Homo sapiens: one gene and its partners. The protein of the gene in region 7 purifies or fractionates together with the protein of the main gene of each other region. This does not show direct contact. Each region holds a gene or a part of one and is shown on either strand. Other genes may lie near its edges. The genes, in order: TBCD, EXOC2, CAND2, XPOT, XPO4, COPG2 and HTR6.

Evidence for each region.
Region 1: the proteins of HTR6 (region 7) and TBCD purify together in Homo sapiens (affinity purification with mass spectrometry, with the first as the bait; one large-scale study listed by BioGRID). This does not show direct contact.
Region 2: the proteins of HTR6 (region 7) and EXOC2 purify together in Homo sapiens (affinity purification with mass spectrometry, with the first as the bait; one large-scale study listed by BioGRID). This does not show direct contact.
Region 3: the proteins of HTR6 (region 7) and CAND2 purify together in Homo sapiens (affinity purification with mass spectrometry, with the first as the bait; one large-scale study listed by BioGRID). This does not show direct contact.
Region 4: the proteins of HTR6 (region 7) and XPOT purify together in Homo sapiens (affinity purification with mass spectrometry, with the first as the bait; one large-scale study listed by BioGRID). This does not show direct contact.
Region 5: the proteins of HTR6 (region 7) and XPO4 purify together in Homo sapiens (affinity purification with mass spectrometry, with the first as the bait; one large-scale study listed by BioGRID). This does not show direct contact.
Region 6: the proteins of HTR6 (region 7) and COPG2 purify together in Homo sapiens (affinity purification with mass spectrometry, with the first as the bait; one large-scale study listed by BioGRID). This does not show direct contact.

Annotation. Positions count from the first base shown.
Region 1 is NC_000017.11:82,761,505-82,765,672, reverse strand, and holds part of TBCD (tubulin-specific chaperone D), read right to left. Parts: intron 1,709-4,168; coding exon 1,611-1,708; intron 1-1,610.
Region 2 is NC_000006.12:686,151-690,318, reverse strand, and holds part of EXOC2 (exocyst complex component 2), read left to right. Parts: intron 1-1,106; exon of another isoform or gene 1,107-1,180; intron 1,181-4,168. UniProt on the Homo sapiens protein: Component of the exocyst complex involved in the docking of exocytic vesicles with fusion sites on the plasma membrane.
Region 3 is NC_000003.12:12,802,646-12,806,813, forward strand, and holds part of CAND2 (cullin-associated NEDD8-dissociated protein 2), read left to right. Parts: intron 1-842; coding exon 843-986; intron 987-4,168.
Region 4 is NC_000012.12:64,417,559-64,421,726, forward strand, and holds part of XPOT (exportin-T), read left to right. Parts: intron 1-487; coding exon 488-557; intron 558-1,317; coding exon 1,318-1,536; intron 1,537-2,511; coding exon 2,512-2,696; intron 2,697-2,794; coding exon 2,795-2,963; intron 2,964-3,676; coding exon 3,677-3,913; intron 3,914-4,168. UniProt on the Homo sapiens protein: Mediates the nuclear export of aminoacylated tRNAs. In the nucleus binds to tRNA and to the GTPase Ran in its active GTP-bound form. Docking of this trimeric complex to the nuclear pore complex (NPC) is mediated through binding to nucleoporins.
Region 5 is NC_000013.11:20,776,829-20,781,414, reverse strand, and holds the end of XPO4 (exportin-4), read left to right. Parts: 3' UTR 1-4,086; downstream 4,087-4,586. UniProt on the Homo sapiens protein: Mediates the nuclear export of proteins (cargos), such as EIF5A, SMAD3 and isoform M2 of PKM (PKM2). In the nucleus binds cooperatively to its cargo and to the GTPase Ran in its active GTP-bound form.
Region 6 is NC_000007.14:130,563,945-130,568,112, reverse strand, and holds part of COPG2 (coatomer subunit gamma-2), read left to right. Parts: intron 1-3,719; coding exon 3,720-3,853; intron 3,854-4,168. UniProt on the Homo sapiens protein: The coatomer is a cytosolic protein complex that binds to dilysine motifs and reversibly associates with Golgi non-clathrin-coated vesicles, which further mediate biosynthetic protein transport from the ER, via the Golgi up to the trans Golgi network.
Region 7 is NC_000001.11:19,667,329-19,671,496, forward strand, and holds part of HTR6 (5-hydroxytryptamine receptor 6), read left to right. Parts: intron 1-4,168. UniProt on the Homo sapiens protein: G-protein coupled receptor for 5-hydroxytryptamine (serotonin), a biogenic hormone that functions as a neurotransmitter, a hormone and a mitogen. Also has a high affinity for tricyclic psychotropic drugs.

The DNA of each region.
Region 1 (4,168 bases), on a different chromosome or scaffold from region 7:
TCAGTGATACCACGCCTTCCGGAGAAATCCTAACCTCAAACAGAGGAGCTACAGAGGCCTGCGTGTCCTTGGCAGCTCACCCGCAGTGTCCTCTCGCTGGCCAAGGACTTTCCCGCCAGACAACAGAAATGCGCCTCGCCACTACGAACCCCAAGCCCCACCCTGAGACGGCTGTGAGTACTTCCATAGTCAAAACTGCCAACAGTGAGCCTCTGGGCCAGCACACAGACACCCGCAAGCTTGTAAGAAAAGCAGACTATGAGCACAGACACCCGCAAGCTTGTAAGAAAAGCAGACTATGAGCAGACACCCGCAAGCTTGTAAGAAAAGCAGACTATGAGCACAGACACCCGCAAGCTTGTAAGAAAAGCAGACTATGAGCACAGACACCCGCAAGCTTGTAAGAAAAGCAGACTATGAGCACAGACACCCGCAAGCTTGTAAGAAAAGCAGACTATGAGCACAGACACCCGCAAGCTTGTAAGAAAAGCAGACTATGAGCAGACACCCGCAAGCTTGTAAGAAAAGCAGACTATGAGCACAGACACCCGCAAGCTTGTAAGAAAAGCAGACTATGAGCAGACACCCGCAAGCTTGTAAGAAAAGCAGACTATGAGCAGACACCCGCAAGCTTGTAAGAAAAGCAGACTATGAGCACAGACACCCGCAAGCTTGTAAGAAAAGCAGACTATGAGCACAGACACCCGCAAGCTTGTAAGAAAAGCAGACTATGAGCACAGACACCCGCAAGCTTGTAAGAAAAGCAGACTATGAGCACAGACACCCGCAAGCTTGTAAGAAAAGCAGACTATGAGCACAGACACCCGCAAGCTTGTAAGAAAAGCAGACTATGAGCACAGACACCCGCAAGCTTGTAAGAAAAGCAGACTATGAGCACAGACACCCGCAAGCTTGTAAGAAAAGCAGACTATGAGACCCCCGCCTAGACCTACTTGCTCAAAATCTATAGCACAGCAAAATTCCCAGGAAATTCATCTGCACATTAAAGTGTGAGAAGCACTTCCATTTCCACAGAGTCTCGCTCTGTCACTCAGGCTGGAGTGCAACAGCATGATCTCGGCTCACTGCAACCTCTGCCTCTCAGGTTCAAGCCATTCTCCCGCCTCAGCCTCCCAAGCAGCTGGGATTACAGTCATGTGCCACCAAGCCCAGCTAATTTTTGTATTTTTAGTAGAGACGGGGTTTCACCATGTTGGCCAGGCTCATCTCGAACTCCTGACCACAGGTGATCCACCTGCCTCAGCCTCCCAAAGTGCTGGGATTACAGGCATGAGCCACCGCACCCGGCCTGCTTTCTCCTTGTAAGAAGTTTTTCTGATTTAGTCTCATCTCCACCCCATTCCCTTCCTAGCTACACAGTGCTTCAATCTATTCAAATGCAAGATGCTGAATATCCTGACACTGTTTCAGCCAAAGAGCCCACATCACTAAATTCTGATCCCCAACATACAGTAAAAAGGGACAGAATTAAACCCACAACTTGTGTCTAAGAACTATCTTTCTTGAGAAATAACATTTTGGAGGGTAACCTCTGGACCAAGTATATTACAAAAGTATCTGTCAACTCTGAAGTGCTATGGAAATGTTACCTTGGTGATGATGTAAAGAAATTTAAAAGCCAGATGTACAAGGGAAGCTGGAGATGTCTGATCTTGCACTATGTCCAACAACAAGTTCATCATCCATTCTAGGGAAAAACATAGGAAACATTTACTGTAAAAGTGAACATCAACATGACATTGAGGCCGGCCAGGTGTGGTGGCTCATGCCTGTTTTCCCAGCACTTTGGGAGACCAAGGTGGGAGGATCATTTGAAGCCAGAATTTCAAGGCGGCAATGAGCTATGATCCTACTATTGCACTCCAGCCTGGGCAACAGAGCAAAACCCGTCTCTTTTTTTTCTTTTTTTTTGAGACAGAGTCTTGCTCTGTCCCCCAGGCTGGAGTGCAGTGGCGTGATCTCAGCTCACTGCAACCTCCACCTCCCGGGTTCAGGCTATTCTCCTCCCTCAGATTCCCAAGTAGCTGGAATTACAGGCACGCGTCACCACGCCTGGCTAATTTTTGTATTTTTAGTAGAGACGGGGTTTCACCATGTTGGCCAGGCTGGTCTCGAACTCCTGACCTCAGGTGATCCACCCACCTCGGCCTCCCAAAGTGATGGGATTACAGGTGTGAGCCCACCGCACCTGGCCCAAAACCCTGTCTCTTAAAAAACAAAAACAAACAAAAAGACATAGCTAGGTTAAACGTAAGCAAAAGGAAAAAGATATTCCAACCAATCACAAATCATAAAAGAGCTGGAGTGGCTCTGTTAATATCAGACAAAGTAAATGTCAGAACAAGCATTACCATCAGAGATAAACAGAATGTTTCATGATAATAAAAGGATCAATTCATCATGAAGACTTAACAATTCTGTAAGTATACACACCAACCTACAGAGCTTCAAAATAAGCACAGAAGAAGCTGAGAGAAATGAAAGGAGACACGGTTGAAAACTTCGACACTCCTGTTTCAGGAACTGATAGAACAAGTAAGAGAAAATCGCTGAAACCTAAACAGCACTATCACCCACCTTACTTACGTGACATTTAGAGAACAATCTACCCAACAACAGAACAGACATTTTTCTCAAGTGCACGCGGAATGTTCAACAAAACAGACCATACGCTGGGCTGCAAGTCTTCATACATGGAAAACAACTGCAACTGGCATCCGGGAAACGCAGAGAAGGACACAACGAGATACACTCCCTGAAATCAGAGAGACTGGCAACGCTGAGTGCTGAAGAGAACCCAGAGCAGCTGGAATCCTCATACCTTGTTGGTAGAAATGGTCAACAGTACAATCTTCATGGCATCAGTATGGCAGGTGATGAGTCACACACTTTTTTTTTTTTTGGAGACAGAGTCTCACTCTGTGACCCAGGCTGGAGTGCAGTGGTGTCATCTCAGCTTACTGCAACCTCTGCCTCCCACATTCAAGTAATTCTCGTGCCTCAGCCTCCTGAGTAGCTGGGACTACAGGCACCTGCCACCACACCCGGCTAATTTTTTGTATTTTAGTAGAGATGGGGTTTTACCATGTTGCCCAGGCTGGTCTTGAGCTCCTGAGCTCAGGCAATCCACCTGCCTCAGTCTCCCAAAGTGCTAGAATTACAGGTAGGAGCCACCGCGCCTGGCCAAGTCATACACTTTCTACAAGTAAGACACTTTCTGCTACTCAGCAATTCCACACATGCGTATTTTCCCAAGAGAAAATAAAACCTCTGTCTACCTAAAAACTTGTACATAAACATTTTCACAGTAGCATTACTTTTTTTTTTTTTTTTTTTGAGACGGAGTCTCGCTCTATCACCCAGGCTGGAGTGCAGTGGCAAGATCTCGGCTCACTGCAACCTCCACCTCCCGGGTTCAAGCAATTTTCCTGCCTCAGCCTCCCAAGTAGCTGGGACTACATGCGCACACCGCCACACTGGGCTAATTTTTTGTATTTTTAGTAGAGATGGGGTTTCACCGTGTTAGCCAGGATAGTCTCAATCTCCTGACCTCATGATCTGCCCACCTCAGCCTCCCAAAAAGTAGCATTATTAATAACAGCCAAAAACCGGAAACAACTCAAATGTCCATCAACAGATAAAAGAAGAAACAACCCCAGCACTTTGGAAGGCTGAGGCGGGCGGATCACGAGGTCAGGAGATCGAGACCATCCTGGTTAACAAGGTGAAACCCCGTCTCTACTAAAAATAAAAAAAAAATTAGCTGGGTGTGTTGGCGGGCACCCGTAGTCCCAGCTACTCGGGAGGCTGAGGCAGGAGAATGGCGTGAACCCGGGTGGCAGAGCTTGCAGTGAGCCGAGATCGCACCACTGCACTCCACCGCACTCCAGCCTGGGCAACAGACCAAGACTCCATCTCAAAAAAAAAAAAGAAGAAACAAATTGTGATTTATCAGCACGAGAGAAAACGTACAAACTACTGATACACACACCAACAATGGTAAGTCCCGGAGATGTTATTTTAACAACGGAAGACAAAAAGAGCACATACTGAATGATTCTAGAACAGGCAAAACTAATGAACAGTACCATTAACCAACAGTGGTTCCCTAGGGCTGGGGTGAGGGGACTGACAGCAAAAGGACATC
Region 2 (4,168 bases), on a different chromosome or scaffold from region 7:
AGTGGCACAGTCACAACACACTGCAGCCTTGAGCGCCATGATTCCAGAAATCCTTCTACCTCAGCCTCCCAAGTAGCTGGGACTATAGGTGCGTGCCACCGGGTTCGGCTCATTTTAAAAATTATTTGTGGAGGTGAGGTCTTCCTACGTTGCCCAGGCTGGTCTTGAACTCCTGAATGCAAGTGATGCGCTGGCCTCAGCTTCCCAGTGCTGGGACTATAGGTGTGACCCACTGTGCCTGGCTGATCTCAATTTGAAAATCACAGAGTCAAAAGGTATTTTTGGCTTAGGCGTCAAAGCAACTATACACTGGTCCTTGGTCTAATCTGGTCTGCTTCATAGTACTGGCTGAGTTGCTTAGATGCTTTGGACTGTTTCCTTTTTTGTGTATTCAGAGAATACATGCAGTTAGATTATCTCTGAAATCCTTCCTGCCTTGAAATTTTCCAACTCAGTGAATCCTATAACCACCTAGCACTTGTCTTATAGCACTTGTGTTGTGTTAGGGACAATATTATTAATGGTGTTTACATACACCAGTAAAAGACTAAGCTCATTCTGGATCGGGATTAGTTTTAATTATTTTTGTATCTTCCAGTCTTACTGTATGCCTGACACATATATTAAAAATCAAATAATATTAGCCTGGATTCATAAGGGGTATTTTTGCCCTCTCAATTAAAGAATAGCTAAGAACTAAACTCTGTAGTATTGAGTGTAAGTCCAGCAGAAGCTCAGAGGTAGGAAGGATCCGTTGGGGCTAGAGTAATTGGGAAGCTTTGATGATAAGAGCTTGATGAAGGAAGGCGTGTGAACACCTGGGCTGCATACCAGGAGCAAAGGCCCAGGGGCTGGTAAGTGAGTGCATTTTGGATTATGGGTGGAGTGCCTTGACTGACAGGCAGAAGAGTTTGGAACTGATTTGTTAGACAGTTCTTTTTTGTTGTTTGTTTTTCCTGGAAAGTTTTATTAGGCCAGCTCAAAAGCTTCCTGAACATCCTTTACCTTAATTCCCTTGGTAGCATTTCAGATTAAAAATACATCATCCAGTTTGCTTTATTTTTGTTTTTGGGTTTATCAGTTTTTCTATGTAATATTTTCCACAGTAAATCTTGGTGCCAATAATGGAACGAACACTGGACACAGGACTGGGGAAGACTGGATTTCAGCTTAGGAGAAGGTGAGCTGCTCAGGGTGGATCCAGAGAGCTTCAAGACTAGTGCCCGGCACATCTTAAGCACTCAGTGACAAGTGCAGCGTTGAAGGCTTTTTTCCCTTTACTGCTTGCTAACAGTGCCACTTTGCACAAGGCTGCCCCTTCGTTTCATTTGTAAGCATGGATGAATTTTTAAAGGCCTTTTCTCATTTTAAAGGTTTGTGATTTTGGAGGGCATATGATTTAACTTTCATTGTATTATAATTTTAGCAAAAGACAAAACGAGACAAAAGGCCATGTTTGGCTTTAGTTTAATTTTAATGAAAACCCCATGTGAATGATAATGATGTATGTCTCAGCAGGAATCAGAAGTCATGCCAGATAGCTCAAATGAAGAAAGGTGCAGAGGGGATTAGGGAATATACAAGGAGTGGTGAGGAGCAAAGGGAAGCTAACAGTAACCAGAAAGGACAGAAGGAGAAAGTAGGGCTGTCTGGAGGAGGATCCGACTGTTGCCAGAGAAGTAGTGCTGGGGGCTGGAAGAGTAACACCGAACTGCCTCAGTGTTGGAACTGGTCCACTTCTGAAATCCAAAGTGCAGGCCTCCCACTGTTTGCTTATAGTCCCTCAACTTTCTCAGTCTCACTCACCCCCACTGCATCTATCAGGCGCTTCTGTGATCTTCAGTCACTGTCATGCCAGTGTGCTCAGTTGTATCGTTGTTGTTCTGTAGCATCTGCCTGGCAGCTTCTCAGCCTTGGGCAGTCTCAACTCTCTGCCTCCTGTAATGCTTGACCTGAGTTGCTGGGGCCAGCTGGGGAAAATCACAGTATCCAGATCTGTGCCCCTATAAATCCATGGTCACCAGCTCAGCTGGGCCATCAAGGAATCTTCCAGAATTTTCCTCATCAGTACCCGCTTCTTATCTCTGCAGAATGTACTTTTCAGCATTTTCACGCTTTTCGAACCTTTCATCCTTTCACATCATTTACACACACTCTTAGCAAGCGGTCTTGCCACCTACATCATAAATGAAAGAGATGTAAGTGGAGAATCGCAGGGGCTTCCTGCCAAAAACTGTTCCTCCTCCCCAGTCACAGTGGAAGAGGTTGTATTTATGCTAAGACCAATCTCCTACCTGGGCTGTGGATCCCATCTACCCCGCCTTTGTGAGGACTTCACTCAGGTGTTCATGTCTTACTAAAGCCTTCCTTCTGTTGGCCTTTATACATGCTTAGAGACAGACAAGAATAAAGTAAAACAGAAAAAACTAGAATCCTCCCTTGATTTCACATTGCCCTTTTAAAATTCCTCTCTTTTTCACTTTCCTGCCACATTTCTTAAAATAGTTGTTTGTAGCCAACTTCTCACCCATCCCAGTGCTGTCTGGTTTCAGCTACGATCACTCTCCTGAAGGCCAAAGTCATTCTTGAGCTTCTGGTCACAAAATCTTGTTCCTGTCATTTCTTCAGGGTAATGCCTGGGACATAGCAAGTGTATAATAAACATTTATTTGACTGAATAAATCCAAGGATGTTTCCTTTTCACAGCCCTAGTTTTTCTGTTTTTCTGGGGTATAGGAGTCCAATACTGTCATCTTTTGAGGATCTGGGTGACTAGTCATTGTATCGCAAATCATCTTGACGGACTAGGTAAAGATACAAATAAATATTATTTGAGGATAAGTTCAGTGGCTCAGTGCCTGTAATCCCAGCACTTTGAGAGGCCGAGGTGGAAGGATAGCTTGAGCCCAGGAGTTTGAGACCAGCCTGGGCAACATAATGAGGCCCCTTTTCTACAAAAATTAGAAAAAAGTTAGCCGAGTGTGGTGGTACATGTCTGTGGTCCCAGTTACTCAGGAGGCTGAAGTGGGAGGATCACTTGAGCCTGGATCACCTGAGGCTGCAGTGAGCTATGATTGCACCACTGCACTCCAGCAGCCTGGGTGACTGAGTGAGACCCTGTCTCAAAAAAAAAAAAAAAAAAAAAAAGAATATTATTTGATAATGACTTCTTCAATCTTGTTCAGGTGATCTGTCTTTCTGGGAAAATAAAACCCTGACATCTTTTTTTCTGAAAAACTATACTTCCTAAAATACTAAGACTTACTGTTTTTATCTATGCATATAGATCTAATAAGAGTAGTAGGGCATTGGGTACTACTGGCAATAGATTTGTGAATAAATAATGCTGTGCTCTTGTATGAAACTCTTTTGTTTTCCTATTAAGTAGTGTATCTTCTTTGAAGTTTTTGTCTTCATTTATTTGTTGGGGGTGGATGGAGGGGGATGAATTTGCACTGGCCTGGTTCATTTTTGACATGTCATCAATGTCCAGTGGCATCGGTTGGAAGTCCAGTCACCTTTAGACCTGCAGCCTTTCCCTGTGCAACATAGTGACAGTCCTTGTCCTCTAGGAGGAGACATGGCATGCTAAGGCAGAGGGCTTTATGGTTCCTGGGGGAATAAAGCAGACCTCTAAGTAACTTTTCCAATTAAGATAGAATCCAGTGCTTGTTTTATGAGAACAGCTGAGTAATCCGGTATATATATAACAGATCTCTTTTATGGGGGCTCTGAGAGCTAAGTTGTCAGGCATTCCCTATATACTTGTCTGGCTTCCAGTATTCCTTCCTAGTCATCTCATGCACATTCTCGTCCCCTTAATCTCTCACCTCCAAACATTGTAGAGGGAGGGAAGGCCTTTATTCCCATTCCTAAAATAAATAAATAAAAATCAAGTGTCATTTATCAGTTATATGGTTTAAATTATTGGATTATTTTCCCAAAAGAATTAAAATATAAACAAATATGCTTTCATTTGAAACCATAGATAGTAGTTCATGTATTTTTTTGTTTGTAGAGGTAGAGAAGGAAAAGAAGTATAAAAAGAGGTCCAGGAGGCCGGGCGCGGCGGCTCACACCTGTAATCCCAGCACTTTGGGAGGCCGAGGAGGGCGAATCATGAGGTCAGGAGTTTGAGACCATCCTGGCCAATATGATGAAACCCCGT
Region 3 (4,168 bases), on a different chromosome or scaffold from region 7:
ACATATGTGGGTCTCCTTGTAGCCCAACCATGCCCACTGCCCAAATAATCCACCATCATGTGGCACTTAACGACGGGGAAACATTCTGAGAAGTGCATCCTTAGGCGATTTTGTCCTTGTGTGAACCTCATAGAGTGTGCCTACACAACCTAGATGGTAGAGCCTACTACACTCCCAGGCTATATGGTGTGGCCTGTTGCTCCTAGGCTACAAACCTGTATTGAGTACTGTAGGCAGTTGTAACAGAGTGGTATTTGTGTGTCTAAACATAGAAAAGGTACAGTAAAAATAAGGTAGAAAAGATTAAAATGGCATGCCTGTATAGGGCAGCTCCATTAAAATCTTTTTTTTTTTTTTTTTTGGAGACGGAGTCTCTCTCTGTCGCCCAGGCTGGAGTACAGTGGCATGATCTTGGCTCACTGCAAGCTCCGCCTCCCGGGTTCACGCCATTCTCCTGCTTCAGCCTCCCAAGTAGCTGGGACTACAGGCGCCCGCCACCACACCTGGCTAATTTTTTGTATTTTGTTTAGTAGAGACTGGGTTTCACCATGTTAGCCAGGATGGTCTTGATCTCCTGACCTCGTGATCTGCCCACCTCGGCCTCCCAAAGTGCTGGGATTACAGGCGTGAGCCATTGCGCCCGGCCAGCTCCATTATAATCTTATGGGACAACCATTGTATATGTTGCCTGTCACTTACCAAAACATCATTATGTGACACAGGACTGCATTTGACCTCGAATCTTTGTATTAAGGTCTACTTCTAGGGGAACCCTGAGGTACTGCCCAAATCCACCAGGGCCCAGGAGCTGCTCAGCAATCTCCTCCACCCTCCCTGTGCAGGTTCATGGCCACCAGCGACCTGATGTCGGAGTTGCAGAAGGACTCCATCCAGCTGGACGAGGACAGCGAGCGCAAGGTGGTGAAGATGCTGCTCCGGCTCCTGGAGGACAAGAACGGTGAGGTGCAGAACCTGGCTGTCAAGTGGTGAGTGTCAGCCTCGGTGGAGCAGGAGAGGGGGCCCTACCTTGTGTGGGAGCATCCTGGGGACCGCTGTCCCTTTGGGGTACAGCCTCGCAGAGGAGACCTGCTGAGCAGCTCTCGTTGAATGGTACCTTAGTCTGAGTTTTCCCAGAAGATGCTGAGACAAGGATTCAAATCTAAGTTTATTTGGGAGGCGCTCCCAGGAAACATGGTAGAGGAGTAGGGAAGTGAGGCAGGAAAGGGAAGAGGACCAATCAAGGGTATGGTACGAAGCAAGTGACCACAGTGGGCCTGATGAGCTTAACCCCATGGGGACCTCTGGGACACAGTATAGGACATGTCCCTTGGACTTTTCCCACTCAAAGGGTAAGGGAGCTGGGGTATTAATCCACCAGCTCCCTGGTAGTCATTGGTTAAGGGCTGCTTCTGGGGTAGGATGGAGGGTTGTCCACTGCCTGCCACCTCCAGCCAGAGAAAGCCCTCAGACAGATGTAAATGCTGGGAAGGTCAAGCTGACACACATCAAGGTGGTAAAGGCTTAAAGGCTGGGTGCGGTGGCTCATGCCTGTAATCCCAGCACTTTGAGAGGCCAAGGCAGGTGGATCACCTGAGGTCAGGAGTTTGAGACCAGCCTGACCAACATGGTGAAACCCTGTCTCTACTAAATAATAATTAAAAAAAAAAAGTTGCCGGGCATGGTGGTGCGTGCCTGTAATCACAGCTACTTGGGAGGCTGAGGCAGGAGAATCGCTTGAACCCAGGAGGCAGAGATTGCAGTGAGCCAAGATTGCGCCATTGCACTCCAGCCTGGGCAACAAGAGCAAAAATTCCATCTCAAAAACAAACAAACAAAAAAGGCTTAGGGCACATGGGACTGGGAGAGGTCCTAAAAGCCCCAGCCTTAGATCACTGTGAGGCTGTGATCCTGAGACGTTGGCCAGTTATCTCGAGTAGAAAAAGACAAGACAAGGGTATGTGCAGAGCACGTGGGGATGCTTGTGTGGTAGGGTCATTCTCACACCCACACCTGAGAACCACTAGTGTAGGGCAGAGGTTGTCAAGCTTGACTGCAGGTTAGCATCACCTGGGTAATTTTAAATAGAATGCCAGGGATCAAGGGACAACAGGGTGAGAGAATTGGGCACTGTCTCTCAAACCACTGTCTGTGAGCTGGGTCCAGGCATTCTTCTGGGGCATGTTAATGAATTTGCAATGTGATCCCAAGAGCAGAGAGAATTCAGTAAAGGGTTTTATGTAGGAAGGTGACATGGACAAGTTTATGAGCTGGGAATGTCTTTCTGGTCATGGAGTAGACTTAGGATGGGTTTCACACCAGCAGAACCAATACCTTTTTATAACAAATAGTTTGTAATACCGTTTCCTATTAGGAAATGAAATTCATACATTATAAAACCTACCTCTACACATAATGCCCTAACCATAACCATAAAGGCAAACTAGAAGGAATGTAGTTTATAGTAATGTGTGTTTCCATGTATGCGTGCTTGGGCACTGTGATGGTAGAAGTGATGAAGTCACGAGAAGCCTGCATCTACACGTGAACTCATCATGAGTACAGATACAGACAGGGGGTGTTGGGGACTCAGGTTTCAGAATTGGAGGCCATTGCTCTTAGTGGCAAGATTTTCTTTTTTTTTTCTTCTTTTTTTTTTTTTTGAAACAGAGTCTCACTTTGTCACTCAGGCTGGAGTACAGTGGTGCAATCTCAGCTCACTGTGACCTCCCCCTCCCAGGTTCAAGCGATTCCCATGTCTCAGCCTCCTCAGTAGCTGACATTACAGGCATGCACCACCACACCCGGCTAATTTTTGTATTTTTAGTAGAGTCGGGGTTTTACCATGTTGGCCAGGCTGGTCTTGAACTCCTGACCTCAAGTGATCTGCCTGCCTAGGCCTCCCAAAGTGCTGGGATTACAGGCATGAGCCACCACACCCAGCCAGGATTTTCTAAAGTGAGTGACCATCTCCCAATAAAGTTTCCCAGAAAACAAAGTAGAATTTTCCTTCAATTTACCTGAAAATTGCATTCTTAGAAAATCTAAAATGTGGTATATTAAAACAATGTAAAAAAGTATTTTGTGTCTATGTATAAAATGAAATTTTAGACTCAGATAATTATAGAAAGGCCTTTTGCCTATACAAATGCCCATTGGGATGTTAGAACCTCTTGCGGGGCATGGACAGTGCTTTGTTTTACATTATTGTCTTTCTGCCGTTCCTGCTTCTCAACCCCTTAAAGGCCAGAAGTACTAACTCAATAGTTTTGATGACCAAGGACCCCCATAAATTGCCAAGGTGGTATTACTCCTAGTGGGAACCAGTGCTATAGGAGGTAGGATGGAGGACTCCATGATTACGTAGATAGAGGAGCTGTGGAGAAGGAAGTTGAGAGAACCAAGGTTTGAAAACCATGGTGCACATGCCTGTAGTCCTAGCTATTCTGGAGGCTGAGGCAAGAGGATCACTTGAGGCCAGCAGTTCAAGACCAGCCTGGGCAACATAGCGAGACACTGAAAAAAGAAATTAGCCAAGCATGGTGGCTTGAATATGTAATCTCATCTGTGTAGGAGGATCGCTTGAGCCCAGGAGTTTGAGGCTGCAGTGGGCTATGATCACGCCACTGTATTCCAGCCTGGGCAACAGAGCGAGACCTCATCTCAATAAAAATCAAGAAAAAAGAAAACCATTGTGCATTGCAGTCACCTGAAGCTCTTGTTGAAACCCTGTATTCCCTGCCCAGGGATTCAGATTCAGGGGATGGAGCAGGAAGGGAGCTGGGGCAGAGGATGAGACTATAGCACCCTGGAATCTGCATTCTGATGCACACCAATGTCTGAGAACCACTCAGGTAGGGCAGAGGTTGTCAGCCTCGACTGCATGTTAGAATCACCTGGGGAATTTTAAAAGCCCTCCCCCAACCCCCTCCAGGCCACATCTGAAACCAATTAACTGAGACTCTCTGAGGGCAGTGCCCAGGTAGGCATTTTTTAGAGGCCCAGGTGATGGCAACTAAGGCCAAGAACGAGGGCGTCTAGTGCCGCTGTTTTTACACTTTCCTGTGCATTGGAATCACCTGGGGACCTTGTGGCGCTACAGATCCTGGCTCAGTAGATCTAGGGTAGGGTAAGGCCTGAGATTCCACATCCTGAACAAGCTCCCGAGTGG
Region 4 (4,168 bases), on a different chromosome or scaffold from region 7:
TATTTCACAGAAAAATCTAGATTTCCAGCTTTTCTGGAAAAGTCAGAATATCTGGTAACACCAGGCCTGTTTTTCTACATGACAATTCTCTCTTAGAGTTAAGTAGCTGCATGGGCACTTGTGTTCAGAATCTCTGACTTACTAATTAAGCAAAATAACAAATCACTACTGAGAGGATTCCTAGTTCACCTATTGGTTTATTCTGTAGATCACAGACCACAAAACATTTTCATTCGAAAAATTGTGTAGCCATCATTTGTTTCAACATGAACAGAATCACAAATTAAAGATTGATATTGATGCCCTACCTGCCACTCTTGTCCTTATCTTTAAAGCAATGATGAGTGGCATTATCAGTTTATGTTAGGGAACTTCAGATAATTGAGAGCTATACAAATTTTCCCTTTCAAATATATGAGGCTGTTATTTTTTACAACCATAGACACCAAATATAGCCATTATTCTTTTTCTTCTCTATTTTGAACAGATACTCAGAACTAACCACTGTTCAACAACAGCTAATTAGGGAGACGCTCATATCATGGCTGCAAGCTCAGGTAAAATCATAATTTCATTCAGTACCTCAAATTATTAGATATTTAAACTTATTTTTTGCAAGAGTTTGGAACTTTACCTCAAAGATTTTCATCAGTGTTCCTCCATTTGATTTCATAGCTTTTTTAAAAGGTGCTGGTTTTAAAGATCATGGAAGTGGTAGTTTAGCAATAATTTAATATTATATCAATGACTGAAATGGTCATAGTTTCCATGACACATTGTGGAAACTTTGGTTTTAAAATGTAGTTGTTTTTAACTACTTGACAAATGCTGCTTTCTGTTTGGCTCTTAAAGGTGAGCCCTCCTGGACAGCCTCTCCACCAGAGCCCTTTATAAAGGGCCAGTTGAGTTCTTTTCAGTTAATTTTAGCTAATCTTAACACATAAAGCAGTTGTGTAGCTAGAGTTTTCATTTTCCTTAAAGAGCAAGTAGAGGAAAATTTTTTTTTCTTCTTAGAAGAAATTATAGGAACTATTAAAACTCTGCACATGAAACTTTTCTGTCAAAGTGTAAGAATGAGGAATAATCATTACAGCCTTTAATGGTTCATTTAATTGTTCTTCATCTGGTCAATCACTTAAATACTTTTGATAATTTTGATAATCATAATTATCAAAATAATTTTGAAGAGTATTTGTTGCATAGTTTATCTGGGCCATGTTGACATTTGATGAAACTTTGCCTTTTAATAAGACAACTGGTGTTTCTGGGTCTTTTCAATTTACATTTAATTTTATGGACTGTTTCTCTGTTTGTCAGATGCTGAATCCCCAACCAGAGAAGACCTTTATACGAAATAAAGCCGCCCAAGTCTTCGCCTTGCTTTTTGTTACAGAGTATCTCACTAAGTGGCCCAAGTTTTTTTTTGACATTCTCTCAGTAGTGGACCTAAATCCAAGGGGAGTAGATCTCTACCTGCGAATCCTCATGGCTATTGATTCAGAGTTGGTGGATCGTGATGTGGTGCATACATCAGAGGCAAGTAACTAACCATGAATTTTTTATATTTAATGTAAGTTTTGTAGGTGATAATGGGCACATAATAAAAAGAGCAGGGAAGTTTTCTTTCTTGAGGTAAACTTTCTTAAGTTATATAATTATAAATTTACCTGATGTTTTGGATTTTATTTTATGAAGGAACTCAAACTTGGTTATTTTTTTTCCAGAGGTATATTGAAATTAAAGTATTACATTACATTTTTTATTTTTTTACTTTTTTGAGACGGAGTCTTGCTCTGTTCCCCAGGCTGGAGTGCAGTGGCACAGTCTTGGCTCACTGCAACCTCCGCCTCCTGGGTTCAAGCGATTCTCCCACCTCAGCCTCCCTAGTAGCTGGGATTATAGGCACATGCCACCACGCCTGGCTAATTTTTGTATTTTTTGTAGAGATTGGGTTTCGCCAGGCTGTGCTCAAACTCCTGACTTCAGGTGATCCGCCCGCCTTGCCCTCCCAAAGTGTGGGGATTACAGGCATGAGCCACTGCGCCCAGCCTAAATTTTTTTTAACTAGGCAAATACTGTAGTGACATACACGAGTTGATTTTCTTTTATGAATCTGTTGAGAAAGGTAGTCTCAATTTAATACTGCTATATAGTCCCTGAGCAAGGAAGAAGCATTGCTTAGGAGTTGTCCGTGTTGCTACTTCTGTATTCTTCATCACATAGTGTAAGTACTATGTTACTATATTGAGAAATAACTTAAAATATGCTTAAGATTTCTAAGCAGTGCTTTTTATAGTTTGTATTTACTAAGAAATTAACTCTGACACTGAGGAGTAGAACAGAAAGAGGAAATACAAAGAATCACAGGATATGATCTTAGAGCTGGTAAATAGGAAATACTGGTAGGGAATGTGTTAACAAGTCTGAAAGTTTACTCTCTGCAAGTATATTCAGATATCAAACATGATTTTGTAAGGTAATCTACTTTGCATTTGGCGTTTTGTATTTTAGGAGGCTCGTAGGAATACTCTCATAAAAGATACCATGAGGGAACAGTGCATTCCAAATCTGGTGGAATCATGGTACCAAATATTACAAAATTATCAGTTTACTAATTCTGAAGTGACGTGTCAGTGCCTTGAAGTAGTTGGGGCTTATGTCTCTTGGATAGACTTATCCCTTATAGCCAATGATAGGTAAGTATGCCTATTATTTTTATAGTATAAACTTGTAAAATACAGTATCTAAAACTCATGACTTTGAAAATGTTACAATTTTATTGTCCCATTACCAGGTTTATAAATATGCTGCTAGGTCATATGTCAATAGAAGTTCTACGGGAAGAAGCATGTGACTGTTTATTTGAAGTTGTAAATAAAGGAATGGACCCTGTTGATAAAATGAAACTAGTGGAATCTTTGTGTCAAGTATTACAGTCTGCTGGGTTTTTCAGCATTGACCAGGTTGGTAAATTTATATAAAACATTGTATGTAAAGTTGTTAGAACAAACTGGGATAGGTACTAAGTTAAATATAATAATAGCTTTTTTTCTTCTAAATGTTATAAACTCCCCTTGAGATTATAATATAAACCACTGCATCTAGCCAAAATGTTCTCAGTAGCATTCTCCTTGGAGAATGGGTTATACCAGTTCTTAAACCTGAAAGCCTGTAATTGCACATTTCTCACAAACTCTTAGGAGATGCTGACACAACTTGTTCATAGTGGAATTGAGATTTTTTGTTTTGTTTTGTTTTTTGAGATGGAGTCTCACTCTGTTGCCCAGGCTGGAGTGCAGTGGCACAGTCTCGGCTCACTGCAACCTCCGTCTCCCGGGTTCAAGTGATTCTCCTGTCTCAGCCTTCCGAGTAGCTGAGATTACAGGCGCATGCCACTACACCCGGCAAATTTTTTACCTTTTTGGTAGAGACGGGGTTTCACCATGTTGGCCAGGCTTGTCTCGAACTCTTGACCTCAGGTAATCCACCCACTTCGGCCTTCCAGAGTGCTGGGATTACAGGCATAAGCCACCGTGCCCAGCCTGGAATTGTTAAATATATGACGTCATTTTAAAATTGAATCCTGTAATTAGCACTTGATTCATATTAAAGTTCAGTTTTTCCTCTTAGCTTGGGCAGGCAGTTTTAAACAGAGATGTGTCTTGATTGCTTATAGGAAGAAGATGTTGACTTCCTGGCCAGATTTTCTAAGTTGGTAAATGGAATGGGACAGTCATTGATAGTTAGTTGGAGTAAATTAATTAAGAATGGGGATATTAAGAATGCTCAAGAGGCACTACAAGCTATTGAAACAAAAGTGGCACTGATGTTGCAGCTACTAATTCATGAGGATGATGATATTTCTTCTAATATTATTGGATTTTGTTACGATTATCTTCATATTTTGAAACAGGTAAGTTTTTGTTTTATTCTTTTTGCTCAATACATAATACAAAGGAGCCATGGAGAAGTGGAAAATATGGAAAAATTAAAAATGAGAAAATACCCATAATTCTACTACCTAAAGATATTTACTGTTAAATACTAATGTATTTCCATCTTAAAAAAAAAAGAATTGGCCAGAAAATAGTTTCAGGTTCTAAATTCAGTAGACTAACCAGCTTCAGAGGTAGTTATAGGTTTAGGTTTTTTTTTTTATTTTGAACCT
Region 5 (4,586 bases), on a different chromosome or scaffold from region 7:
GAAGCCACTACCATTTTTTAGGTGATGGGGATGCCACTGAGTTGCAACGGCTAGACCTTTTCAGGGTGGTTGTGTCCATGTTTGCCTGATTGGATGCTTATTCACTTTGTGTTTTCTTTTGTTTTATTTTGTCCAATTTTGTCTTTAGCTGTGTTTATTAACTTCTCCGGTCTTGTTTTGTTTTAATGCTCTTGGCCCAGTGGGTGTCAAGAACACTGGCTTAATTCAAGTCAGTTGATTTTTTTTCTATTAAAACTGTTGTTAAAATATTTTTTAAAACAAAAACATTATTTGTGCCCTCTTTTATATATGTCAAAGGGACACTGTCAAGTATTTCATTTTTAGATTTTTGTTTTATAAAATTTCTGTTGTTCATATAGTATCCTTTAACCTCTAGTTTTCCATACATCCTTTGTTTGTTTCTCATTTTATTTTCCTTGACCCATTTATTTCCCAAGGCACAATCACTAAAGACTTTGTACTTTCACAGTCTGTTAATGTGGTAGCACCTGTAACTGTGTTCTTGTTCTGTTAAAAGGATTGATTTGCTTTTATAGTCCTTGTGCTGGATGAGTGGCTGCCTCAGTAGCAAAACTACCTGACAGTATTTGACAGTGTCCTTTCCAGCACCATTATTTGGGTCTTTCAGGGTGGCCATCTCTGTTAGAAGACAGTAGCATGTTAACATCACTGCATTGAGTTTTTGTCTGGTGTAAAGTATGACTTTTAATGTAAACAAACTGCAGGTTTTTTTCAAACTAATTTTAAGAATTTAGTCTTATTTCGTTGTAAACTGTGTATCTAATTATATTACATTACTCTGTTCAGATGGGATGGTTACTACCACTTGTCCATGATTTTCATTTGAAAAGCAAGTATCTATATCATTTCCCCCCAGTCAGCATTATTTAACACTCCCCTTAACTGTCTTTGAACTTTCTCTTTTAACAAAAATGTCAAGTCTTTATAGTTGTAATATCACCATGTTTCCCATTTCTGTTAATACTTCTATGAACCCCTAAAGTATTGAAGGGAACTAGCTGTCAGTTTCAAGGATTACAAGTTTGAGTCTCCTAGTATTCAACATCATTCTGAACCCTGAAATAATATTTTTCTCTGTTAAACAATTTTTATCTGTTTGCCACCTCTGTTGTTAGAGGTGGTTGTCAATTGACCTTACTAAGTTAGCTGTCTTTGATGAGGAATTATTGTTATTGGTTCCTGAATAAAACATTAACCTTTTAAGTCAGAAGGAACCTCGGTACTTCTTAAGGTTTGTTTGTGTTTTCTAAAACCAGAGAATAAGGAACTGATTTGGCTATGAGGTTTAACATTATAATTTTCTGTAAGCTTTCCCACAAAAAAACATTGTTGATTTGAGGATATAATAATGTTTTAATCTTTTTAAAATATAAGTGGTTATTCTCTGACTTGGTAACTATGTTCTGAAAACACTGCATTTAAGAATTTTTAAAAATTGGTTTTCTAAAATTAAAATGTCCAAATTAGGCATATTGCTGAGCTCAAATTGATGTGAAATGCCATGGTTCCAGTTGAATTTTAAGCATATTTTCATTTAGATATAAAATATATGAAGTATGCTTTGTTGATTATAGTGAGAACCCATGACATAGTTAACCAAAGAATATGTTTGGTTCAAATAAAAATAGAAGCTTAATACTGGGCATTCATACTTTTTAAAGAGAATGAATGAAGAAATCGGTTTCCTGCTGTAGTTCTCTATGGGTAAGTCTTAGTAAAGACGAGAATGCTGAAGTCGGCCGTGGCGATTCCCTCCTAGGAACTGGGAGGTGTGGCTTGCCCATTACCCGCTTGAAGCTCACATCTTTACCCTCCTCTCCCACTGTGGTTTGATCTTCACCTATTCCCAGGCCCTCCCAGCAATTGGAGAGGTGTCTTTTTTTTTGGTTTTGGTTTTTTTTCTCCCCGTCTGCATTCTTAGGCCTCTTAGCTATTAGGAACTGTCAGATACATACTAGTAGCTAATTTTCCTAGCCTGAAATTATATACTGCATCTGCACTATGTACCTACTAGGGATCTGACCTCAAGTGTTTTCTGAGCCCAGGCTTCCTGGTGTGGTGTCTTTTACCACATAAAATTATTACAAATTGCAAATGTTGGTATTGTGATTTGATTATCTGTACAAAGAAAGAAGCTCTATGCAGTGAGTTTGTGGTTTAATGGTCACAAAAATGTTAGCACTGCTACCACTCAGCACGTGTAAAATTTTTTAAATTTATAAATATTAAAATTTTAAACTTACACTAAGACTTTTCAGTTTTATTTAAAGACCCAGGGATGAGTGTACTGTTTAAATATTTACCTCTATTAACATAACTAATGAAGGTATAAAATTGCATTTAGTTTTTCAGAAGATGCTGCAATATGATTTTAGGAAATAAGGCTATGTATTGAGCCAGTTATAGGCTGAATATCAGGTTGATAAAATTTTATTTGTATTTTTAAAATTCATAAATGGGAGTTAAAATGTGTCTTTTCACTAAATATTTTTATTACATTTTTGTTTTGACCATGTGTGATTTGTTCATGGGTATTTAGCTAGACTCTTTTATGAAATGCATTGAAATGGTGCTAGTTTGTTTACCATTATAGGAAGATTGACACTGGGGACATTACACGGTCCTAAAATAATTTTAAATTTAAAAAAATGAAGACATCTGTACAGATAAAAATCAAGATTTGCATCACCTTCTGGGAGAACCCGTGGTACTCACAGAATATCCAGTATTAGAAATATAAAAATTTTGTCTATATTTTATAATATTTATCTCAGCCCACAGTCTTAGAAACAGTTTCACAGTTACTAGTTAAGTCATTATCTTTGGTGCATATTTAGTAAATACTTTTAGCAAGTCATTCTTTTTGGCCTTTCAGGGAAAGTGGTGAATTACCATATTACTGTGTGCTAGATAGATCCACCCTTTGCCCAGTGTTAAATCTTGTAAACATATGAAGTGAAAAGTTAATTTTTAAAGAAAATGCATCTTTAAAATGTTCATTTTTAACCTGAATTTGCTTTGAATATTCTTTGATTTGTAATGTTGTTATTTAGCTTATATTGAGATTTATTCCACTCCAAAGGTGGATAAAGAAAAGTTGTTTAAGAAAACCAATTAGAGTGTATTTTGAATTTTTGTTTCTTTCATTACCAAGTGTGGGGCCATACACACAGGCTAATCATCTGTCATTTGAGACCCACAGATGATTTCAAAGGTCCCAAATAAATACACATCTATAACTGTTTTTTAAAAGACATCTTTAATGGTGCTCTCCAAAAATACAATTCGGTTGCTTATGAGTGATGCCTTTGACAGGCTGATTAGATTATAAAACAGTTTTGTTTTTTTAAACATAGGGTCTCAGATTGAGTCTTGTGCATTCTATGTAATCTCAAATGGCAGTTCAGTTTGACTTTCTTTTAAAACTAAGTGGAAATGGTATATTTGGTGAAACTAATGAAAGAATCTTTTGCTGGGAAATTCCATACAGCACCCCCAGCAGCATCCTGTCTCAGTCTGGCGTATAATTCAACCTCCTACTGAGTGTCCCTGTAAATTATTTTTAATATATAGCATGAGAGTGAACTGAGGTAAGTCATTGATGTTTCCCAGAGATGATGAATGAACAAAAGCAAATAGGATCTGCTAAACATTTTTATTCCCACAGTAGTGAGCAGTTTTGTTCTTGTTTTGATAATGTTCATTTCTGCCTAATCTTAGGCTTCAAATACACCTTTAAGAAAGCCCAAGATGTATTGAGTAGTAGAACTTCTTATTTGTACACCTGTTTATAACTGCACTGCCCTGGATGTTATGGTTATTTCTAAGGACTGACCTGGTAAAGCTACTTGAACTGGTAGACTGCAGGGTAGAGGCAGACCTAGATTCAATGTCTAACTAAGCTGCTTAGGGCTTACATTAATTTCCACAGGTCTGTTATCCATATCATGAGTTTATAAGTGTTCCTCCCAAAGAAAAAATTTAAAAGTGATGGATGAAATATAATAGTAGATGCTCAATAAATTCCATTGTATTTAAAGATTATTTCTGAAAACAGATTTCATTTCATTAGACAAATGTATCATAACACTAAGTCTGATACCTAATAGTCAATTGCTTTTAAATACATGCTGTAATATCTTCATATTGATACTACGTTATAGCCCTAACCACAACCACCCTAGGGATATTGGGGTAGACTTCACCATATTATTTACTGTACTTTTTTTTAAAAAATGAGAAAATGGATCTATTTATGTTAACTATCTTAGTCTGTTCTATTTAATTCAACTATCTTACTCTGTGCTATTAGAATACCTGAGACTGAAGAACAGAAACTTACTTCTTTCATTTCTGGAGGCTGCCCTTTGACTTCCATCATGTGGAAGAGGCAAGCAAGCCATCACCAGATGGTGGCGAGAGAGAATCAACTCCCTCCTTCAAGCCCCTTTGTAATGGGACCTAATTTTATTCATTAGGGAGGAACTCTCTTGGCCTAATCACCTCTTAAAGGCCCCACCTCTTCATACTGGCACATTGGCAAC
Region 6 (4,168 bases), on a different chromosome or scaffold from region 7:
AGTAGAGACAGGGTCACCATGTTGGCCAGGCTGGTCTCAAACTCCTGACCTCGTGATCTGCCTGCCTCGGCCTCCCAAAGTGCTGAGATTACAGGTGTGAGTCACCGCACCTAGCCCTCTTACATTCAGTGTTATTACTGAGATGTGAGTGAGGTACTATTCTATTCATCATGCTAGTTGTAGCCTGAATACCTTGTTTTTTATTTTTCATTGTGTTATTGTTTTATAGGCCCTGTGAGATTTTTTTCTTTAAGGAGGTTCTATTTTGGTGTATTTCAAGGTTTTGTTTCAAGATTTAGGACTCCTTCTACAGTTATTGTAGTGCTGGCTTGGTGGTGGCGAATTCTCTCAGCATCTGTTTATCTGAAAAGAACTTTATCTTTCCTTCATTTATGAAGCTTAGTTTCACTGGATACAAAATTCTTGGCTGATAATTATTTTTTTTAAGGAGGCTATCGATAGGACCCCAGTCCCTTCTAGTTTGTAGGGTTTCTGCTGAGAAATCTGCTGTTAATCTGGTAGGTTTTCCTTTATAGCTTACCTGATGCTTGTGCCTCACAGCTCTTAAGATTCTTTCCTTCATCTTGACTTTAGATAATCTGATGACTAAATGCATAGGTGATGATCTTTTTGTGATGAATTTTCTGGCTGTTCTTTGAGCTTCTTGTATTTGGATGTCTAGGTCTCTTGCAAGGCCGGGGAAGTTTTCCTTGATTATTCCTTCAAATAAGTTTTCCAAACTTTTAGATTTATCTTCTTCCTTGGGAACACCAGTTATTCTTAGGTTTGGTCATTTAGCATAATCTCAAACTTCTTGGTACCACCCAGTTGGTAGTTTTTTTATCCTCATCCTCTCCCACCCTACACCCTCAAGTAGGCTCCAGTGCCTATTGTTCCCTTCTTTGTGACCATGTGCACTCAATGTTTAGCTTCCCTTATAAGTGAAAACATGCAGTATTTGGTTTTCTGTCCCTGTGTTAATTTGCTTAGGATAATGGCCTCCAGCTCTATCGATGTTGCTGCAATGGACATAATCTCATTCATTTTTATGGCTGCATAGTATTCCATGGTGTATATGTACTACGTTTTCTTCATCCAGTCCACTGTTGTTGGGTATCTAGGTTGATTCCATGTCTTTGCTATTGTGTGTAGTGGTGCAGTGAACATAGGAGGGCCTGTGTCTTTATGGTAGAACTGTTAGTCCAAACTGTACCATTTTGTAAGCCCCTTGTCATTTCATAGACCTTGATCAAAGTGAAACATTCCTTGGGGGACTGGGCCGTGAGAAACATCCTGCCCGACTGCCTGACTTTCTTATCACATTCTGCTGGGAAAAAGTCCAAGGAACATCACTGTCACATCCTGCCAGAACAAGGGCCAAACCACCTCATCATGGGAACATCTTATCAACATCCTCCCGGGCAGCAAGCCATAACCCTCAGACCCCTCCCTCCCAGGCCTAAAATTGCCCCAGCCTGTAAGCAGAGGTGGGCCCTGGCATTAAGCTGGTGCCCCGCCTCTGCAGGTCTTATGCTGGACATAAAACCTGCATTGCTGTAGAGCCGCCAACTCTCTCTCAGTCTTTCTTTAATCCTCGCCTTCTCATCAAAACCTAAGAAGAACAATTCATATTCCTTCGGGTTCGTATTTAGTAATGGGATTGCTGGATTGAATGGTAGTTCTGAGGTCTTTGAGAAATCTCCAAACTGCTTTCCACAGTGGCTGAACTAATTTGCATTCCCAACAGCAGTGTGTAAGCATTCCCTTTTCTCTGCAACCTCACCAGCATCTGTTACTTTTTGACTTTTTAATAATAGCTATTCTGACTGGTACAAGATGGTACCAAGCATATGAAAAAATGGTCAACATCACTAATCATTAGAGAAATGCAAATCGAAACCACAATGAGATACAATTTCACACCAGTCAGAATGACTATTTTTATGCTTTCAACAGTTTCACTCTGATGTGTATATATTTGAATATTTTTGTATTTATTCTGCTTGAGACTTTTTGAGCCTCTTGGGTACATAAATTAATGTTTTTTCTAAATCAAACTTATGAGGTTTTCAGCCATGGTTTCTTCTTATGTTCTTTTTCCCCTTTGTGTCTCTCTTTTCCTATGAAAACTCCTATCATCCAAAATGTTGGTACCCTTGGTCATGTTACACAGGTCTCCAAAGCACTGTTCATTTTTCTTCCTTCTTTTTTTATTTTCATCAGCTGGTTTATCTCAGTAGATCTACAAGTTTTCTTATTCTTTCATCTGCCTGTGCAAGTCTGCTATTGAACTTTTTCTGGTGAATTTTTCATTCCAGTCATTGCACTTTGCAAATCTAGAATTTCTATTTGGTTTCTTAAAAAAAAAAATCATTTCTGTCACTTTATTGGTAGTCTCATAAGACATCTTGTTGTACTTCCCTTTAAATTAAATATTTTAGTTTCCTTTAGTTCTTTGAACATATTTATATTAGCTGACTTAAAGTTTTTGCCAGTAAGTTCAACATCTGGGCTTCCTCAGGAATAAATTCTATTGACTACTTTTTTTCCCCCATAGATGGGTCATAGTTAAGTATTTCTTTGTGTGTCTCATAATTATTTTGTCAGAAACATTATATTTTAAATATTATAATGTGACAACACTGGTAATCAGACCTTCCCTTTCCCTATCCCTGGGGTTTGTTGTTTTTGTTGTTGTTTGTGACCTTCCTGGACTATTTCTGTAGTCTTTATTCTGTATCTTGTATAGACACTGAAGTCTTTGTTTGATTAGCTGAGTCACAAATAATAATTTGACAGATTTTCTTAAATGCTTTAAACCAGTATGTCTCCCATCATTTTCCAACGGGTGCTGTGTATGTTGGGGCGTGCTTTCCATGCCCCGGGAGTTCACAGCTCTGCCTTAGCCTTCACTTCCTGCTTTGTGCAGAGCCTCAGAGTCAAGCAAAGGTTAGAGAGCGGAGCTCTGTCAGGTCTTTAGTGGCTGTTTGCTTAGCCCTGCACATGCACATGACCTTCTGTATCCCCAGAAATATTTTAGAAATTTTCAAAGCCCCCTAAGGACATCTCATTTCTCAAATTTTCCTTTTAAGTTTTTTGGCCAGCCTCTTGTTTGCCCCTGCTAAAATTGCTGCTTCTGGCAGCTGCAAGATTAACCAAATACTACTGATTTTTTTGGACAAACTCCCTGGGCATAGGGCTTTTCATGCTGAATGAGCTCTTGAGTCAGGTGAAGTAAAGATTAGCCTGTGAATAGGGCTTTTCTAGGAGCACCAGACAGGTCACATAGTGACAGTTCTCTGGGGATGAGATTTTGGCCCAGAGCTGCTTTTGTAGCTAGGCTGCTGGCATTCACAGTTACTGTGGTTCTGAGGCTGCTGGTTTCCAAGACTGCTATGGAACTGGGAAGAGGTGCATGGAAATTGAGAATGAGTAGGTTAAAACACCAGAAACTTCACCATTTTTACTAAGATTCAGCTACTTTTCTTAAATAGATGTTCAGGATTGTTGCAAATCTTTGATTAATTTTTTAGAGTTCTGCAAAAGTTGATTTTGACAATTTTGCCAGTGTTCTAATTGCTTTGTGATGAAATGAATTTTTAGAAATCCCTCATCCACCATTCCAGAAGTGCCTCTCAATCTGCCTGTGCTTTTAATCCCTATGCATATTGCCTCTCTATTTGATATCTAAATAATGGCCTATAAATATTTATTGGCAGCCATGAAAGTCCACTGTTTGATTTCATTGAGAGCTGCTTGCGAAATAAACATGAAATGGTTATTTATGAAGCTGCTTCAGCTATCATCCATCTTCCTAACTGCACTGCAAGAGAGTTGGCACCTGCTGTTTCAGGTTTGTTTTATATTTGATGGCTGGCTTTTATGTTCCTAAGTTTTTGCTTTAAGTTTCATAGGTCTACAGAATAGGTATTAAGAATGTTTTCTGAACACTAGCTCTGTGTATATATAGCCTTTGCATTCTGATAGCTTATATGTAGATAGTTTATTTTAGTTGTTCCTTACTTTATTACTTTTTTTAATGTTTCTATTTCTCCATATAAAACTTTTGAAAGAATTTTATTTATATGTACATAGTTTATTAATAATAGTTCTTTATTGCTTTTTTTTAAAGTTTCTGTTTCCTCGTATGAAACTTTTGAAAACATTT
Region 7 (4,168 bases):
ACTTGTTCATTTTGCCTCCCTGACTTGAATATAAGCTCCAGGAGGGTCACACATATTGAGATCAGTTTTTTTGCTTTTTTTTTTGTTTTTGTTTTTGTTTTTTTTGAGACGGAGTCTCGCTCTGTTGCCCAGGCTGGAGGGCAGTGGTGCGATCTTGGCTCACTGCAACCTCTGCCTCATGGGTTTAAGCGATTCTTCTGCCTCAGCCTCCTGAGTAGCTGGGATTACAGGCACCCACCACTATACCAGGCTAACTTTTGTATTTTTGGTAGAGATGGGGTTTCACCATATTGGCCAGGTTGGTCTTGAACTCCTGATCGAGGTCAGTTTTGATCCCCACTGTGCATAGTAGGTCCCATCTTGTTTCAGTGCCTGGGAATGGGGTAGGTGCTCTTAGCTCAAGGCCTTGCATTGTCTATAAGTGAGTGCCTGCTCTTGCCATCCAGGCCACAGTGCACCTGACTCCTATTGACCCCCTGGAGGGGTGGGTGTGTAGACCGACCAGGCCTGAGACCCAGTGACTTAGGTCGCAGGTCTTGAGGAAAGTCCCAGCTGGGCTCTTTTGGTGTAGCCCTGAGTGGTGAAAGCTCTAGGAGGGTGGGGGTTGCATTGGAGGTCACTGGGCACATGGGGACTTGGCAGAGGGGTGAAAGGCTAACACCCTCCTTGGCAGTCCCCCAGACAAGCTTGCCTGTCCCACCCAGGTGGGTGAGGCCCAAAGTTGCCCCTGCCTATCACCTGGGGTGGGGGCAGGGCCCCACATGGACTGGGAGTCCTGGCTGCCGCCCAGCTCCTTCTCCCTATCCCTGCTCCCTGTAGAACATTCTTGAGTCTTGGCAGGTGGCTGGGACTCTGACTTGCTTCTTCAGGGGTGGGATGGCTGCCTTAGGCCATATACCCTGGGTTCTTGCTTTTTGTTGTTGTTATTGTTGTTTTTTAAGAGACAGGGTCTTGCTCTGTCACCCAGGCTGGAGGGCTGGAATGTAGTGGCGTGATTATAGCTCACTGCAGCTTAGAATTGATCATAGCTCATTCCAGCCTGAAGAGCTGGTATGCACTGGCCCGATCATAACTCACTGAACTCTTGGGCTCAAGCGATCCTCCTGTCTTGGCCTCCCAAAGTGCTAGGGTTACAGGCTTCCCTGGGTTCTTGAAAAGGAGTGTTTCACAAGCTTCAGGCATTCAAGAACTGCCTGCGGATATCTTCCTTAATGCCTCTTCCACCACCACCTCCACACCTTAAGCCACTTAATTCACATGCACTTGGCATTTTATTTATTTATTTATTAGACACAGGGTCTCACTATATTGCCCAGGCTGGCCTCGAGCTCCCACTTCAGCCTCCCGAGTAGCTGGAATTGCAGGTGCATGCCCCCGTGCCTGGCATTCTTGACATTTTCTTTAAATCATCTCTTTTATATTTTTACTTCCACAAATTTGTGTAGAAAGAAAACTTCGTATCTCCTCTAGAAATGGAAAATCTGTATCCTTTGCCATAAATAGAAGGTGATCACAAACACCACTTCAGTGAAACTGAAGAAGCTCCAGCCCTATCACTGAAATGCAGCTTGGTGTGGTTGAGGTGATGAGCCTAGGGCCTGCTTTCTCTTTGTAGCGTGCTAGAAGGTATTACAAACATGGTAGCATCAACGTGGGACTTTCTCTTGACGCACCTAGAAGAGCTGGAAGACAGCTGTAATGGGCTGACGTGCTCACTCTGTGATTCACTCATTTTATGGGGTGTCCCTTTACCATCTAAAATCATCTCCATTCCCACAGTTCAGGAAGCTCTGCTCTCGTGACTAAGGATGTGAGAAGTTGGCTGGTCTGGGTGAGGTTGGGGCGGGAGAGATCAGGATTCCTAGTTGCAGCGGTGCCAGTACCACACAGATTTTCTTTCCATGAATCTCGCTGGCTGGTACTAGGATTGAACCTGAGTCTGTGGTCTTGGAACCTGGGCAGGAGTCTCCCAGGTGCTAACAGCTGCAGCCCCACAATCTGTGAGCACTCACTCTGTACCAGGCACTGAGCTAAACTTATTAATTCCCCAAACACCCAATGAGTCAAGTACTACCAGCACCCCTGTTAGACAGGTGGGGAAACTGAGGCTCAGAGCGAGAGGTGACTTGCCCAAGATTGCACAGTTGGTAAGTGAGGTTTAAGCTCGGATCTGGCTGGTGCCATCGCCCTGTGCTGGTGTGCTGCCTGTGGGCAGTGATGCTCTTGAAATGCTTTGCTCGGGGACCCCACACCTTGCCCCTTTTCTTCTCTGTGCCTTCTGGTCTTCTCTGTTGGGTCCTCCTGATCCGCCTGAGCCATGGCATCCCTAGTCCTCAGTCCTCGGAGCATCTCGTCCTTTTTCCACATTTGCCCCGTTAGTGACCTCATCTTGTCTCGTAACTGAAAATACCACCCACACGCTGATGACTTCCTACCTGGGCTGCTTACAGGCACGTGCTGCCACGCCCAGCTAATTTTTGTATTTTTAGTAGAGACAGGGTTTCACCATGTTGGCCAGGCTGGTCTCGAACTCCTGACCTTACGTGATCTGCTAGCCTCGGCCTCCCAAAGTGCTGGGATTACAGGCGTGAGCCACTGCGCCTGGCCCTGACTTCCTGATTCCGCTCTTCCTCCCTTTCAACCTTCCGCAGTGGCCCCAATGATCCCCTTTACAATGCAGTTCCTGCTGCATCATTCCTCTGCTCTGGCAGCCTTGTGTCTCACATCACCTGGCCCTCTGACCCTATCTGGCCTCCTCTCCTTCTATAATCCTGCTTGTTTCTTCTCTTTCAGCCATACTGGCCTCCTTGCTGTTCCTTGAACACACCAAGCCCATTCTGCCTCACTTGCGGTTCCTTCTGCTTGGAGTGCCCTTTCTTCAGGTCTCCACCCTGTTCTCCCACTAATTTCCATCATTTCCTTCCAGCCTCTGTTGAATTGCCTCCCCTAATCCCTCTCTCAAGAGTAGCACCTCTCACCCTCCCCAGGTCCTCTCCAGTCCTCATTTCCTAAGTTATTTCTCTCAGCAGCACCTCCTACCCCCTGACGTGTTCTATACCTACCCATTTTTATTTATTTACTGTTTATTTCCTTCTTCTAGAATTTAGGCCTATGAGGGTGGGGAACTTGTTTTTCTGCCTTTTTTTTTTTTTTTGAGACAGAGTCTCACTTTCTCGCCCAGGCTGGAGTGCAGTGGCGTGATCTTGGCCCACTGCAACCTCCGCTTCCCAGGTTCAAGCAATTCTCCTGCCTCAGCCTCCGGAGTAGCTGGGCTATAGGTGCACATCGCCACACCGGGCTAATTTTTTGTATTTTAGTAGAGATGGGGTTTCACTGTGTTGCCCAGGCTGGTCTTGAAACCCTGAGCTCAGGCAATCCACCCGCCTTGGCTTTCCAAAGTGCTAGGATTACAGGCGTGAGCTACCATGCCTGGCCTGTCTTTCTGTTTTCCCCCATGGTCCCAGGAATTAGGGGCACCTGGCACATCATGGGTGCTCAGTATGTATTGATGGAAGGAATGCAGTGTACACAGTGCTTCAGGGAGCCTGGTATTCCAGCCCTGTTTGTGCGGTTGCCTGTTTTCTCATGCCTTTCAGAGTCACTTCTTGAGTGTCATGATCCTGAACTTTTTATCGTGTGAATTCATTTGCTTGGTGACATGTATTGACACCTGCTTTGCACAGCAGCTGTTCTAGGCTGTGTATGTAGTGGTGAACGAGACCAACAGTGCCTGCCCTCTTGAAATCTGTTCTAGTTAGGAGTACAGACATTAATCATCAAACTGTACCACGATGAGGATTATGGAGCTTATAGGAGGGATGCTTCACCCAGCAAACATTCAAAATCTATTATTCACTGTGTATGTTTGAAGATGAAAGCAAAGCACTCACACCAAGCCCTAAAGTGAAAGGCTGGAGGGGTCTTCATGGGTTGGTTAGGCCAGCGCCTTACTTCTAAGGCAGAGTGACTCAGGGGCCTCTCAAGCCAGAAATGTGTCTGTTCTAATCCCCCCGCTTTCTGGAAAGCCCATTCTCTTGGTTTGAACGTGACGTGTGCAAATTCTGCCTCTGTTCCTGCTTTCAAATCCACTCGGCTCCTTAAGTAAGCCTCCTGCAGGCCGTTTTCCTGATTGCCTGGTGAACGGCCTGCACTTTGGGAAAATGCATCT